2 linked regions of the Homo sapiens genome follow. The protein of the gene in region 2 interacts with the protein of the main gene of each other region in a biochemical or structural test. Each region holds a gene or a part of one and is shown on either strand. Other genes may lie near its edges.

What was found. The genes of interacting proteins can lie anywhere in the genome.
Region 1: the proteins of DNTTIP2 (region 2) and DNTT form a complex in vitro, tested with the Homo sapiens proteins (one study listed by BioGRID).

Annotation. Positions count from the first base shown.
Region 1 is NC_000010.11:96,299,786-96,307,441, forward strand, and holds the start of DNTT (DNA nucleotidylexotransferase), read left to right. Parts: upstream 1-4,648; 5' UTR 4,649-4,712; coding exon 4,713-4,915; intron 4,916-7,656. UniProt on the Homo sapiens protein: Template-independent DNA polymerase which catalyzes the random addition of deoxynucleoside 5'-triphosphate to the 3'-end of a DNA initiator.
Region 2 is NC_000001.11:93,876,189-93,883,825, forward strand, and holds the start of DNTTIP2 (deoxynucleotidyltransferase terminal-interacting protein 2), read right to left. Parts: upstream 3,019-7,637; 5' UTR 2,961-3,018; coding exon 2,889-2,960; intron 1,675-2,888; coding exon 80-1,674; intron 1-79. UniProt on the Homo sapiens protein: Regulates the transcriptional activity of DNTT and ESR1. May function as a chromatin remodeling protein. Part of the small subunit (SSU) processome, first precursor of the small eukaryotic ribosomal subunit.

The DNA of each region.
Region 1 (7,656 bases), on a different chromosome or scaffold from region 2:
TAGTGTTTGCTGATGGGAAGAGGGCTACTTCTCCACTGAACCATGGAAAACCTAAAATCCTCCCCATTGTTTCCTGCCCCATACACTTGTACTCAATAAAGATCTCTAAGAATGATCATGTGGAGACTAAATATTACCCAAAATGGAAAAAATTTAAAAACAATCCCGAACTAAGGGGAGAAGTGGCTGCCTGGGAGCATCAGCATGGAAACCAGTGAGCAGCTGTGTTCTTTGTTTCCTCATAGCCATCATCACCTGAACAGGCAGGAGCATTGGTCACATCTGCCAGCATCATGGGAGTGGCAGCATGAAAGGGAGGACAGAACAGTGGCCCAGCTCCCATGTGGACCAGGCAGGCAGTTGTCATGCTATCTTATTCATCACTTACAATGTGAAGAAGTTGGCACTATGACTGCTATTTTACATGTTGGAAACTGCGAACCCCCCATGGGGTAAGGGAATGGCCCAAGCTCATACATCTGGTAAGTAGCAGGTGGTTCAGGCTTGTGTAGCTCCTGAGGCACCAATACTTCCAGTTGCATTCAAAAGGGTGCTGTAGGTGTTCTACAAAACAAACAAAGAAAAGGTAAGCATGTTGAGAATACAGTGGGCGAACACAGTTTATTACAAACCTTTAATGTTCTAACACACATTGTATAGAGTTTCTCTGGTTTCCCTACACTTAATTCACTGCAGAATTTTTGTTTTGCCTGGAACACTTCATGGGACCAGTGTTCCCATAAATCATTGCAGGACACCCCTCTGGTCTCATTAGAGTCTTAGGTCTGTTTTATTTTTTTGTCTTGTTTTGTTTTCTTTTTTGAGACAGGGTCTCACTCTGTTACCCAGGCTGGAGAGCAGTGGCATGGACAGGGCTCTTTGCAGCCCCGATCTACTGGGCTCAAGTGATCCTCCTGTGTCAGCTCTTCCTAAGCGGGCTGGCACCACTTTTGGAAGAGTCTAGGGAAAGCAAAAGACCATTGGGAAGGATTGTGACAGGATTACCTACAAAGTATATGGGAACACAGGGAAGGGAAGGGGGAACAAGGAGAAACCTGCACTATTACAATAGCAATGGACAGTTCTTGGAACTTGCATGCCAGTGGTCTTTGAAGTGCTTTAGTCCTCATAGCCACCTGTAAGATAGAAATCATTCTAACCCCCATTGCAGAGATAAGGGAAATAAAGCAAAGAAAGGTTAGGTTTTGAATTCAGGTAGTCTGGCTCCTAACACCTGTATTCTATTTGTTCATATTGAAGAGTCTTAAATGGAGCAGAATTCTCCACCAAGTAGCATAAACAAATAAACTTTTGTTAAGACACTGAGATTTGGAGATTATTGACCAATCTAGTAGATCAAGGAGAGTGCTCAACATCTGATGCAAAGAGCTTCAGAAAATCATAGTATAGTAAGAAGAAATCAATTCCTGCTATTGGCAGCAATGCCAAAGAGCATAAGAGAACTCTGTATAGTGTTTTATTATTTTCAAGGCACTTCATGAGCACGATTTAATTTAGTTCCTGAGAAGGCGATGAGACATCTGTGCTCTCAGACCTTATTTCACACCTCCCTTCACCACAGGGGATTGGTTTAACAGACATTAATTGCTGAAAAAGCAAAAAGAGGACATTGAGGTAACTCAGAGAAAGAAACTGCAAGAAGCACACTACACCACTGGGCTGGAGCAACAAAGGGATGGAGCTGGGATTGTTGAAAACTGGAAGTTTGGAGCAGGGCTCCCATGGAGCTGGAACACAGATCTTTAATAAGGAAGTGCTGCCTGTCGTCCCTGGTGCCATAGAATTTCATAGGGAAACCTCTGCAGAGCTGGGGCTCAGACTTTTGAGGAGATGTCACCTAAGTGGTATTGATACCTCTGAAGGGTACAGTAAGACTGGGTCTGGTTGTGCAGAAAAGAAAAAAAGAAAAAGAAAAAAGCTAAAGACTAGAACCAATCACTGCTGTCTGAGTAGAGAACCATTACTGCGAAGACCCTGACCTTTGTAGCAGCAAGCAAACAAAAAAGGTCACCTCTTTCCTCTTATCTAGACTTTCAGTCTCCCTCTGGTATCACCATTGGCAGAGCCTGACATAAAGTCAGCTGGCAAATGAGAAAGAGAATTTGCTCAGTCCCAGCCTCAACCTCATGGAATCCATCAGAAAAAAGGTAGATTTGCAGCTGAGAGATGATAGCCTGATAACCAGACAGGCATCAGTACATTTGAAATTTTTGTTGGTAATGTTTTCAATACCAGTGACTCAAAGCAAATTAAAATGTGACATTGTTTAATATGATATTTTGATGATTTAGTAGTTTCACAAAACATATATATCCGATTTCAGATTGAACTGGAATGTCTCTAAAAACAAAACATAAATTACTACGAACTGACATTTATTGAAAGTGCTACCTTTGTGTCAAGCACTCTGCCCAGCAGGTTATGTGGGCTATCTCAGTCCTCATTTTACAGATGGGGTAAAGCTGAGGCTTAAAGAAGTTAAGCAACTTGCTTTGAAGCTTCAGAGCAATAGAGACAGAATTTTTATGGGCAGCCTGACGAAGCCTGAGCTGTTAGCCACATCTCAGTACTACCTCCCCATTCCCTTTACTGCTTAGGTGGTGCACCTTTACTATTAGGTGGCTATACCTTGGGAACGAACACAACAATCCCAGACTCTTGCTAGAATCATTTACTTAACTCCCTGCTGCAGCACCATTTGGTAGCTAAGACTGCATTCTAACATGAAGCATTCAGCTCTTCAGTAACCAAACACATAATAGTGAGGGTCAAAATAGACTCTCATCTTCCAGTTGATCTCTAGCAAACAGTCATAGCATCCGGGAATTTCAGGGCTGCATTATAGGCCCTTACCAGATGTCTGAATTCCCTTCTGTTACAGCTCAATAAACAGTTATCCAGCATCTGTTTGAATACTTTTCATGACTTGTAACACACAACTGTATAAAGCTGCTCTCTGTATATTTTTAGACAGCTGAGTTACTAAACAGGTCTTACTTGCGGAGAACTGGAATCTATTACTCTACAATTTCCACCTGAAGATTTCTGATTTTGCTTTCTTGAGCAACACAGAGTGCTTTACCCATGCCTTAAGGCAGCTGTCACATGACTCTTCCCCTAATACGGTTGTGAGGTGCTCACGTGTTTTGGAGATAGCAAAAGTCTCAAATAATATGGCACAGACGGCCAGCCATGGTGGCTCACACCTGTAATCCCAGCACTCTGAGAGGCCGAGGTGGGCCGATCACCTGAGGTCAGGAGTTCAAGACCAGCCTGACCAACATGGTGAAACCCCATCTCTACTAAAAATACAAAAATTAGCCAGGCGTGGTGGCGTGCGCCTGTAATCCCAGCTATTCAGGAGGCTGAGGTAGCAGGATCGCTTGAACCCAGGAGGTGGAGGTTGCAGTGAGCTGAGATTGTGTCACTGCACTCTAGCCTGGGCAATAAGAGCGAAACTCCATCTCCAAAAAAAAAAAAAAGGACAAAGGGTGAGCAGAGCTCAGATTGGTTATTGGAGAAGACAATACAGAGGAAGGCTCCTTGGTGGTTAAGAGTAGTCTTTTAAAATCAGACAGATCTGAGTCCAAATCCTAGCTCAATCATTTCTCAGTTGTGAAAATTCAGTAGCTCTGTGACCTTGGGCAAATTGTTTAGCCAAATGAGAAAGGTAGGACCACCTGACAGTGGTATTGTGAGGATCCTGTCAGCTAAGGCTGGTAGGTGCTTGCCTTGGCCGTGTAGTAGCTGCTCAGGAAATGAGATCTATAGAGTGTATTGGTGAAAGACAAATTTAATTTTGCACATAAAGTTATGAAAATGTCTCCTTATGGCAGTGGTTATCATCTAAAAGTCATACCATCCCACTGAAGAAGACCTATTTTAGGGTTTATAACAGACTACTCTCTGGACAACCTTAATCCACTTAAAAAACTAATATATGCATACAGCATTTGGAATCCAAAGAACTGAATTCAAGATATGGCTTGGCCCCTTATTCTGTGATCTTGAATAACTGAGCCTTGGTTCTCTTGCTTATAAAATGTACCTATGTAAGTGAACAGGTGGTAATACCCACCATGAAATACTATGGAGCAGTTAGAAGCAACAGAGCAATTAGAATACGGATCTGGAAAACATAGTTCCAAGTGAAATAAAAAGGTGATTGGCAAAATGAGAAATGTAACAATGCCATTTATGTAAAGTCAAAACAACCACAAGCAGAATATAACACCCATGCAAATAACAGACATCCAGTACAGTGTAATGATTGTCTACAAAAGGAGGAGAATGCAAGTGAGTTGGGAGGTTTAAAGGGGATCAATAAATAAAGACCACAGAAGGGCCTCAGTACATTTAGAAATAAATAACATGCAAACAATGATGCTTCCCTACCTTCCTCACGAGGTTACTCTGAGGAGCTAATGAGATTGTGCGTATGAAAACAAAAGTTAATTGACTGTCTTCATTATGATCTCCATATTGGACAAATGAACTGAACAGAGATAAAAATTCCCCATCACACTTTGGCAGGAAGCTGTTGCCAGGGCAGCACCTGTGAAGCCCTGGCCTGGCTTCAGAGTCTGCTGGTGAGATGACATCAAAACCCTTCGTGTAGGAGGGTGGCAGTCTCCCTCCCTTCTGGAGACACCACCAGATGGGCCAGCCAGAGGCAGCAGCAGCCTCTTCCCATGGATCCACCACGAGCGTCCCACTTGAGCCCTCGGAAGAAGAGACCCCGGCAGACGGGTGCCTTGATGGCCTCCTCTCCTCAAGACATCAAATTTCAAGATTTGGTCGTCTTCATTTTGGAGAAGAAAATGGGAACCACCCGCAGAGCGTTCCTCATGGAGCTGGCCCGCAGGAAAGGGTTCAGGGTTGAAAATGAGCTCAGGTAGGACAGCATCGATCTTGCTTTGTAAATAAGCAGAGGCTTTGTGAACAGCTTCTTGGGAACCCAAGGAACCTGTGTTTTCTTCCACATGTGGAAGAGGTGATCTTCCCACTGGGAGAACAGCAGATTTGAAATCAAAGAACAACTAGTTAAGGAAAACGAGATAAGTGGGGACTGAATACAATTATATTGAAACTAGTTGACACCAAAAGATGAGATAAATTTTTTGTTTTTTGCTTTTCACTCCTATGAGATGTGTTATTTAGGGATGATAAGCAGAACACTAATTGGAAAATTTAATGCTGAACCACTCAATTCTATTCTTGACCAATTTGAACAAAGTATCACTGGGTTCAACAAAAAAGTTTTGGCTACTTTGATGCAGAAAGATGATTTGGTTGCTTGGTTCTTACCTATACATCTGGGCGTGCTAAGGCAGCTAGCATCTGTGGTGGGCGAGGATGACTAGCCAGCTTACCACAGGCACCCAGATGTGGCCTTGACCACATTTTTCCAAAGAGTGGTCCTAGTGGGGTTCTTAGAAAGAGAGATGCTAGGTAAAGATGTATTCACTGTTAAGACAGCTCTGTCCAGGGATGACAGACATCACACTGAGTGAGATGTAATCAGAGCCCAGGCAAGGAGGCGATAGAAGCATTTGGACCACCTAGATTGGTTCACTCACTAATCCACTCACCTTGAACAGCAATTATTCTTGTTGTTTTTCTAACTTCTGTGTAAGCTCTTCACTGATCTCAAATAGATGAAGAGAAAACAAGCAAAATCCAGAAACAAATGGTATTAGAACCTTGACATAAGTGATGGTTCTGGATTAAACTGTTAAGGGGCTTGCAATGAAGGAGTAATGATTTATGCAGTTGACCGCTTTGACTGTGCAAGAAATAAATTGACCACAAATTTTCAGGCAAAACTATAAAAATTTTATGTGAAAGGACATTTTGATTGTATAAATAGTCTTTGATATTTGAAAATAAAACTGACAAGCATGTCATGCAGAAGAAATGTCAGCTTCCAAGTGTTGAGGAGACATATTTCAAAAGTCAATTTTCAGATATGTTAATGTTCGCAACACCCTGATTCATATGACATTGACTTTTCATTCATTTTTTGCTAAAATGCCCCATTCAGAAATTCCTGAATTTCCTATGGCCCTTCTTCCACCTGATTTCTCTTTGCAAGGTCTCCTTTTCTCTCTTGCTGCCTCTCTGTAACCTCCTACAGCCACTCTGAATCTCATTTTCTAACATCCTTTCCAAGAAAATCCTAGATTTCATCTAACTGTTAAGCCTGCCTGATATTACAGACTTACATAGAAGGCTAGAGTTGGAGAAGACAGGAAGATTATATAGGTAAAGAAGCCAAAAAAATAGATTTTTTTTTTTTTTTTTTTGAGACAGAGTCTTGCTCTGTTGCCCGGGTTGGAGTGCAGTGGCACAATCTCGGCTCACTGCAACCTCCGCCTCCCAGGTGCAAGTGATTCTCCTGCCTCAGCCTCCCAAGTAGCTGGGACTACGGACACGCGCCACCACAATCAGCTAATTTTTGTGTTTTTAGTAGAGACGGGGTTTCACTATGTTGACCAGGATGGTCTCTATCTCCTGACTTTGTAATCCGCCTGCCTTGGCCTCCCAAAGTGCTGGGATTACAGGCATGAGCCACCACGTCTGGCCAAAAATAGATTTTTTGGAAAAGAAATTAAAAGCCTTAGCAAATATGGAACTGCTTTTCATGGTAAAGAAATTTGACAAGGGTTAGGCAGGAAGGAAAGAACCAGAAGCACCACTTACTGGAAAGCTCTCCATTGAAACGTCCAAGCTTCCAGCAAGGACCCGCTGATTTATTATAGACACAGCAATGAATACATACAAGGCGGCTGAGGCAGGCACTCAGGGAGATGATGGGAGGTAAGTTTCTTCTGTTGGCAGGACAGCTGAAGAGGCAGCTACATGCCCCAGATGCCTGCTGCCAGGGACCAAGCCCAGCTGCTCAGGCGGCGGAGGAAGCTCACTGGTGCATGGTGAGCAAACTGCCGCTGTGCATGTGATGATGGCAAAGTTCCCAGGCTGGTAGCTCAGAAGACACATTAAATACAAATGTGCTCTATGGCGCAAAAATAAACCACAGGAAGTAGAAGTCCTAGGTCTCAAACGGAATTTCTGTGCATAGATATATAGACTTTAATTGGATAGAGAAATAAAAATTATTGTAGGGGACAAATCTCTAGATACGAAATTTAGAAACCTCAAATCCTGGCTCTGAGCCTCCCCAGCCATGGGGTATGGGACAAGGTCCCCTCTCTCCCGACTGATTTTAATATCCTGATAAATGGCCTATCTGATGTGATCACCAAATGAGATAATGCATGTCAATGTGCTTTGATAAATTAAAACAGTTAGACAAATGTAAAGTGTAATTATTTTCTTGTGAATTGCTGGATCCATTGACCTTTACAGCAAAACCCTAAGGAATGGGCTCTCCCTCCACAATATGAACAAGGTCAAATGATATCAACAAATAGAACAAAGACAGGAAAGAAACCCGTCAACATGTTATAACTGGTTTTTTGGGAGTGGGGGTTGGTAGGGAGAGATTATGGCTGTTTTTATTTTCTGGGTTTTCCAGTTTTTTTTTTTTTTTTTTTTTTTTTTTTTTTGAGACGGAGTCTCGCTCTGTCCCAGGCTGGAGTGCAGTGGCACGATCTCGGCTCACTGCAACCTCCA
Region 2 (7,637 bases):
AACATTTCATATTTTTATGGTAAATTAACCACTTGAAATACATGTATCAAAAACTTATAAAAATAAAGGAAAAACTTACAGTTTAGCCTTTGTGCTATTTAGGAAGTCTTCTTCATCACTAAACTCATCTTCATTTTCGTCATGGTCTGATGAATCTTCTTCACTTTTTTCATCCTCTTCCTCTTCTTTTTCTTCCTCAATGGCAACCTCACTTGCCTTGTCTTCCTCTTCCAAGTAAAAATTTTTATCAGCACTCATTCCAGGAGTTGTGTCAATTACAAACAATGCATTGTCACATGACAGACTTCCTGTGTCTCCACTTAATGACTCCCTTTGGCCACTATTTTCAACAAAACATAAAGTATCCTCTTCATTCTCACTGTTTTCAGACTGTTGGCTTTCATCACTGCTGAGAACTAGTAAGACAGAATTATCTTTACCCTGAGATGTGTTGGGCGCAGACGTGTATAGTTTGGTATCACATTCAAAATCTACATTCCCTTCACTGTTCATGTCTTCACTGACACTTATAACTGTGGACTCTTCTTCATCATCACTACCACCACAATCACCAAACTTTGTCAAGTCACTTGCTTTTATGGGGCTCTTTTTGTTGTTATTCCATCTGCCTACTTCCACAGTTGCAAATGTTTGAGTTAATGATTTCATTACAGCCTCAGAGTTCAGATTAGAGTGCACTGATACAGCATTTTTATTTTGGGGGGTTGAATGTCTCTGAGAAACTAACTGTTGAAGGCTAGTGTCCTGAAGTTCAGAAAGATTCTTCAGCTGAGAACTTTTCTCATTAATTTCTTTCCCCTCATCTGTTATTCCATTGGCATCTTCATCCAAATCCTTACAATTCTGTTTTGTTTCTTTAAGAGATTCAACATTGGCCTGTTCGTGCACTGTTAATATATTTTCTGAACTTCTGTGGGAGAAATCATCATCAAAGTCATTATTATAGAAATTTGGCTTATTTATCTCAGAAAGAGATCTTGCTTGTAAATGGGAAGTTTGTCTGGTATCTGAATCCTCTGAATTCACAGGTGTACCCACGATCTGTTTCTCATTTCCTGGTACAATCTTACTATCTTTCTTTTCAGTTTGTGCCTTTAATTTCCTCTGCATACTCCTGGTTCTTCTAGTTGCAATTCCAGAGAATGAAATGTCTGAGCTTGATGTCTCAGCATCAGATATAGCTTCTGTATGAGATTCTTGGCTTGGATCTGTCAGAGATTTAGCCTTACTTCTTCTGGCTCCTGTAGTTTTTTCTGTAGGAAGCACAATTCTAGAAATACCTGAAACATGAGATTCTGCTTCAGACACTATTTCTTCAGTGTAAGACTCCTTTGTTGGAGTTACTTTCGGCTTTTTCCTAACACTGGACACTGGGGAGCATGCAATTAAGATCTGCCTTCTCCTAGTTACCCTTAAAATGGTATCATGGTGCTCAGACACAGAATAATTTGACTCTGCCTCAGAGGTTTCTCCATCCGTAGATGGTTCAGTCCCCTTTGGTAGTGAGCCTGTAGTTCTGCTCTTCCTCTTTCTAGCTTTAGGAGTTCTAGGGATTAAACTTTGCTTCCCAGTGGTCTGTGATTCAGCAGTAGTTCGGGCATCAGATCCAGTACTACTTTCTGGATGCGCTTGAATCCCATTAGCAGCAAAACTCTGCAAACCAGAGAAAACACACTGTAATTTAGGTAGGGCTGGAACAAGGGCAAAGCAAATGAAATACTGACCCCAAAAGCTAAAACCCAGTAAACAAGATTACCTTTAAAACAAAAAACAAAAAAACCTGCCCAACTCATGATTTTTAAAAAATCAAAATTTGGCCGGGCGCGGTGGCTTACGGCTGTAATCCCAGCACTCTGGGAGGCCGAGGCAGGTGGATCACGAGGTCAGGAGTTCGAGACAGCTTGGCCAACATAGTGAAACCCCATCTCTACTCAAAGTAAAAAAATTAGCGGGGCGTGTTGGTGCGCACCTGTAATCCCAACTACTCAGGAGCCTGAGGCAGAAGAATTGTTGGAATCCGGGAGGCAGAAGTTGCAGTGAGCCGAGGCTGCGCCACTGCACTCTAGCCTGGGCGACAGAGCAAGACTCCGAATCAAAAACAAACAAACAAAAAAATCAAAATTTAAACACTGGAGCCAACCCTGCATTTACTTCACTAGCCTCATCCTTCCTAGATGTAACTTCAGAAGCAGAACGATTAAAATTTTTCTGTTTAAAGTCAAATATAATGGGTAGACCAACATTCTGACCCACCTATAGAAGAGGGGAGAAAGGGAATATTAACTCTGAACACCGATGTGTTTAGGAACACACTGATGGAATCAGTCGCCGCCCTTACCTTTACGTACAGGAAAAAATCGCCGCCGCTCCGTTCCCTGCATCGCTGAGTCAGAATGAGACAGCCGACTAACGCCACTAAGAGTCACCAGGCGACGACACCACAGCCCTCCTCACGCCTTAAGGAGGTGATGCTGGACAGCTGCCAGCCTCCCCACGTGAAAACGAAGCTTTTTTTCCAGCCCCCCTAAATGGGGCTTGTGCATGGTGGCCGAAATTAACCCTCCTTGGTACCGTGTTAACAGTAAGGTTTAAAAGTTCGAACTGTGCTTCTGCATTAAGGAGTTGAACGACCCAAATAAAGTTATCTAACCTCTCTTCCATACTAAAAATTGCCTTAAGAGACAGTGGTGAAGGCTAAACAGTTTCCGTGACAGGCTTAGCACGGGGCCTGGGAGACCCAAGCGCGCGGCAAGCTCGGGTCCTCTCTGTCGGCAGGTCCTCACCCTTAACCGGACCCTTGCGCCGCCCCGCCTGCCTGAGCGCGGCTCTGCGAAGCGGCGAGAAGTAGGGAAGACTGGATTTCCTACCTTTTGCCCGGAACTTTCAGCCGACGCGGCTTGGATGCTGGCCTTAGCCCGTGCAGATCTGGTAACCACCATCTTTCCGGCTCCCTCGCGACCACCACGACTTCCCTCTTCCCTGGCGCTCCGGAAATGCGTCAGAGAACTGCCTCGAGCGCGTTTTCCGCGCAGATCCGAGAATTCGCGAGAATCTCCGCCCAGCCAGTTCAGGCCAGGGCGGTCAGAGACAAAGGGCCTGGGTTTAAGTGTGCATTTCAGAGCTGTAGAAGGCAAGCCAGATTTTTGCTGGGAAAGACCTTCATCGGGGCGGCGAAGCCCGCAGTGACAGAGGGTCTTAGCGTACCCGTTCACATGAATTGTAAAAACGCACTTACATGCCATTCGTTCTTTCATTTGTTTAGTAGAATCGTTTGAACCCGGGAGGCGTTCTTTCATTTCTACGTTCTAAAGAGCTTAATGTAGCCATTGGTATGTCCAAGGGAGAAGTTTGAGATATTTGTGCTTTTTAAAGAAAGACAATATTTACTCGTGTATTGTGACGCTAACTATAAATAAAATTTAAGGACTTGGTTGGGGTAAAAGGGATATAAGGTGCTCGCAGGAACTGGGAGACGAAGTGGAAAGCTGTATAATCTAAACGTGAGATGGTGTTTAGGGATTGGGAATAGCAGAAAAGAAAAAAACGTTAAAGAAATTGTAAAGGAGAAGAATAAGGTTTTGTTGTTGTTGTTGTTGTTGTTATTGTCACAGTGAAAGGAAGAGTATGACCAGAATCAAGAGGTTTCTTTGGTTATCTTTTGAGATAAAAGGTAGAGAACTATGTTTGAGGGGATGGGAAGGGGTTGAAAAAATAAGTAAACGCAAATTATTGTTGGAGGTGAGAAAGGATGAATGAGTGCCTCACCAAACCTAGTCTCTACTTCATGACAGAAAACCAATTTTTTATTTAAAGTCACAGAACACTGTGTCGATGGACACACTGCTTCCCAGCTTAAAATAGCTTATTTTATAGTCTCTCTTGCAGCCAAATGTGGCTATGTGACTACGTTTTAGCCAATTAGGTATAAATTGTGTGCATGTCTTTAGGGACGGCATCTAAAAGAGAGGAGGCCGTCCCTGACTTTTTTTTTTGGAGACGGAGTCTTGCTCTGTCGCCCAGGGTGGAGTGCAATGGCGCAATCTTGGGTCACTGCAACCTCCGCCTCCCGGGTTCAAGCGATTCTCCTGCTTCAGCCTCCTGAGTAGCTGAGATTACAGGCGCCCGCCACCATTCCTGGCTAATTTTTTTTTTGTATTTTTAGTAGAGACGGGGTTTCACCATGTTGGGCAGGCTGGTCTTGAACTCCTGCCTTCAGGTGATTCACCCGCCTCGGCCTCTCAAAGTGCTGGGATTACAGTGCTGGGATTATAGGCCTAAACGACCTCGCCCAGCCCTCCTGATCTTTTAAAGTGCATTTTACTTCCTGGAAAGTTGGGTTCGCTGGTTTTCAGGCGGCAAGTTTGTGCCATAAGGATGAAGGCATGCTTTAGAGATGGCATAGCAGTGAGATGGAAAAATCAACTTGTGGAGCTGCCCTATGAGCCCTCAAGAGCCGCCTTCTAGATTTTTCACCTGATGGAAACACCTTGTTAAAAGCCACTGTTAATTAAGGATTTTTCTATTTGCAGCCGAGCCTAATGCTAACTGAACTGGATAATAAACAGAGATGTGGGTGTAGTCAGAAAAGAATGCACCTTCCTTTGAGCCAGGAGGAAAGAGTTGATATCTGAAACAGAGAGGAGAATGTGAATGCAAGTATGTTCAAGTGGAGTGAAGAAGAGAAGATTTTGGGTAGATAATAACCTCTGTAAGTAGGTGATACATCTCAGAAGAATGGAAATGGTTTATATCAACATTTGTGGCAAATGTGGTAAGAAGCAAAAATAAATTTTAGTAGGGCCAAGTAGCAGTGAGACTATGTAAGAAGATGAACAGAAGAGAAAGGTTAGATTTGAGGAGGAGACAAATCGTGTAGAAGGAAAGTGAACCAATTGGATGTAGGTTGTGGAGATCAAAGCATCAAAGAACAACAGCATCAATCATAATAGTATTGGCCACTTAATATCTGCTGGATACTAATCTACGTGCTTTACATGTATTCATTCATTTAATCTCCACATCTTTAATTTGAGCAAATGCATGAAAATAGAAATTAAGATGACAGAGGTAGGTGTAGAAAACTGGAGAGAATATTAGAAAATCATGCAATGTCTAATACTCACTTGCAAGCATGGCCCTTTCAAGTAAAGAAAAAAAAAAAGGAGAAAACCAACTCATATACAATCTAAGGTCAAGAAACAAACGTAAGATACTAAAATTGTCAGTACATAGTTATAATATGAGAAGATTGAGCTGGTCTATCAACAAATCTACCATAGGCCAAAAAAAAAAGAAGTGTTTTTACGTGGGCTTACCAGGTTTGCCATATTCTTTGCCTATCTTCTTTATCTGAAGTGGATTTAGGGCAAATACAGTATATTTAATTTTAGGTATATATAGTATATACAATACAGTTGACCCTTGAACAACACGGGTTTGAACTGGGAAGTTTCACTTATGCAGTGATTTTCTTCTGCCTCCACCACCCCTGGACAGAAAGACCAACCCCTCCTCTTCCTCCTCAGCTTACTTAACATGAAGACAAGGATGAAGACCTTTATGATGATCCACTTCCACTTCTCTTCCTTATGATTCTCTTAAAATTTTCTTTTCTCGTTTATTGTAAGAATGCAATATATAATATATACAACATATAAAATATGTATTAATCAACTAGTTATCTGCAAGGCTTCTGGTCAATAGTAGGCTATTAGTAGTTAAGTTTTGGGGTAGTCAAAAGTTATCTGTGGATTTTCAACTGTGCAGGGGGGTCAATGCCCCAACCCCCACATTTTTTAACGGTAACCAGTACTATTACTCAGGCCCAAAAGGAAATTTACCTTAAATAATCTATATTTTACTAATTAAATCCTTAAACTGAAAGGTCAAAGCTCCCTGGAATTTTAGGCATTAACCAAAAGATGAGAGTTTTAGTGCATGAGCCTTCTAAAAATGCATACTATTCATGGTCATTCTGCATTGTTACATGTAAAACATTACTATTAAAATTAAGTTTGACCTGTAAGATGTCCAGTGATCCCATTTTCTGGTCTTCAAACCTTTGAATGTGGGCTGGACTTAGTGAGTTCTAATGAAACGAGTATGACAAAAATGATGGATGTCACTTTCAGGATTAGGTTAACAAAAGGCTGGCTTCTATCTTGCTCTCTCTCAATCATTCACTCTGTAGGAACCTAGCTGTACGTTATAAGCTGTCCTTTGAAGAGAACACTGTGGCAAGGAACTGAGTGAAGGAGGCCTCTGGCCTACACCCAGTGAAGAATTAAGGAACTCAGTCTGACAACGTGTGAGGCACTGAGTCCTGCCAACAACTACACGAGTGAGCTTGGAAACAGACCCTCAGTCCAGCCTTCAGGTGAGACTGCAGTCTTGACTTATCCATTGCTGCATCTGGATGCCTCAAAGTCATCCAGATACAACAATAGATAACCAGTAGTTATAGATTAACTTCATCTCTCCTAAAATTTCAAGTAAAATAAATAATACAGGCCAGGTACAGAGGCTCATACCTGTAATCCCAGCACTTTGGGAGGTTGAGGAGGCAGGATCACTTGAGCCCAGGAGTTTGAGACCAGCCTGGGCAACATAACAAAACCCCATCTCTACAAAATATATAAAAATTAGCCAGGCATGGTGGCATGCGCCAGTAGTCCCAGCTACTTGGGAGGCTGAGGTGGGAGGATCACTTGAGCCTGGGAGGTTGAGGCTGCAGTGAGCCATGATCATGCCACTGCACTCCAGCCTGGGTGACAGAGCGAGACCACGTCTTAAAAAAAAAAAAAAGAAAAAAGAAATAATACAGTATGTACTCATGTCTAGCTTCTTTCACTCAGCATAGTGTTTCTGTAATTCATCCATGTTATTGTGTATACCAGTAGTTGATTCTTTTTTATTGCTGAGTATTTCATTGTATGACTATATAACAATGGATTTATCCATTCAGCTGTTGATAGACATTTGGGTTGTATCTGGTTTTCAATATTGTATTTGGGGGCTTTTAGAATTCTGTAATGTCAAATGATCATTTAAGATTGAGTGCAAACTAAGCTGGGTGTGGTGGCATGTGCCTGTAGTCTCAGCAACTTGGGAGGCTGGAGCAGGAGGATTGTTTAGTTCAGGAGTTCTAGGCAGTAGTATGCGATGATCACACCTGTGAATAACCACTGCACTCCAATCTGGGCAACATAATGAAAACTGATCTCTATAAAAAACAAAAACAAAAACAAAAAACAAAGGTTGAGTGCAAAATAAAGACATTTCAGACAAATGGGATCTAGAAAATTTACTGTCACTAAAGACCTTTGGTAAAGAATTACTAAGGAGGCTAGGTACTGTGTCTCATGCCTGTAATCCCAGCACTTTGGGAGGCTGTGGTGAGAGGATCACTTGAGTCCAAGAGTTCAAGACCAGCCTGGGCAACATAGCGAGATCCTGTCTCTACAAAAATAAAAGTTAGCCAGGTGTGGTGGTGCATGTCTGTAGTCCCAGCTACTTGAGAGGCTGAGGTGGGAGGATGGCTTAAGCCTGGGAGGTTGAGGCTGCAGTGAGCCATGATCATGCCACAGTACACCAGCCTAAGAAACAGAGTGAGATCC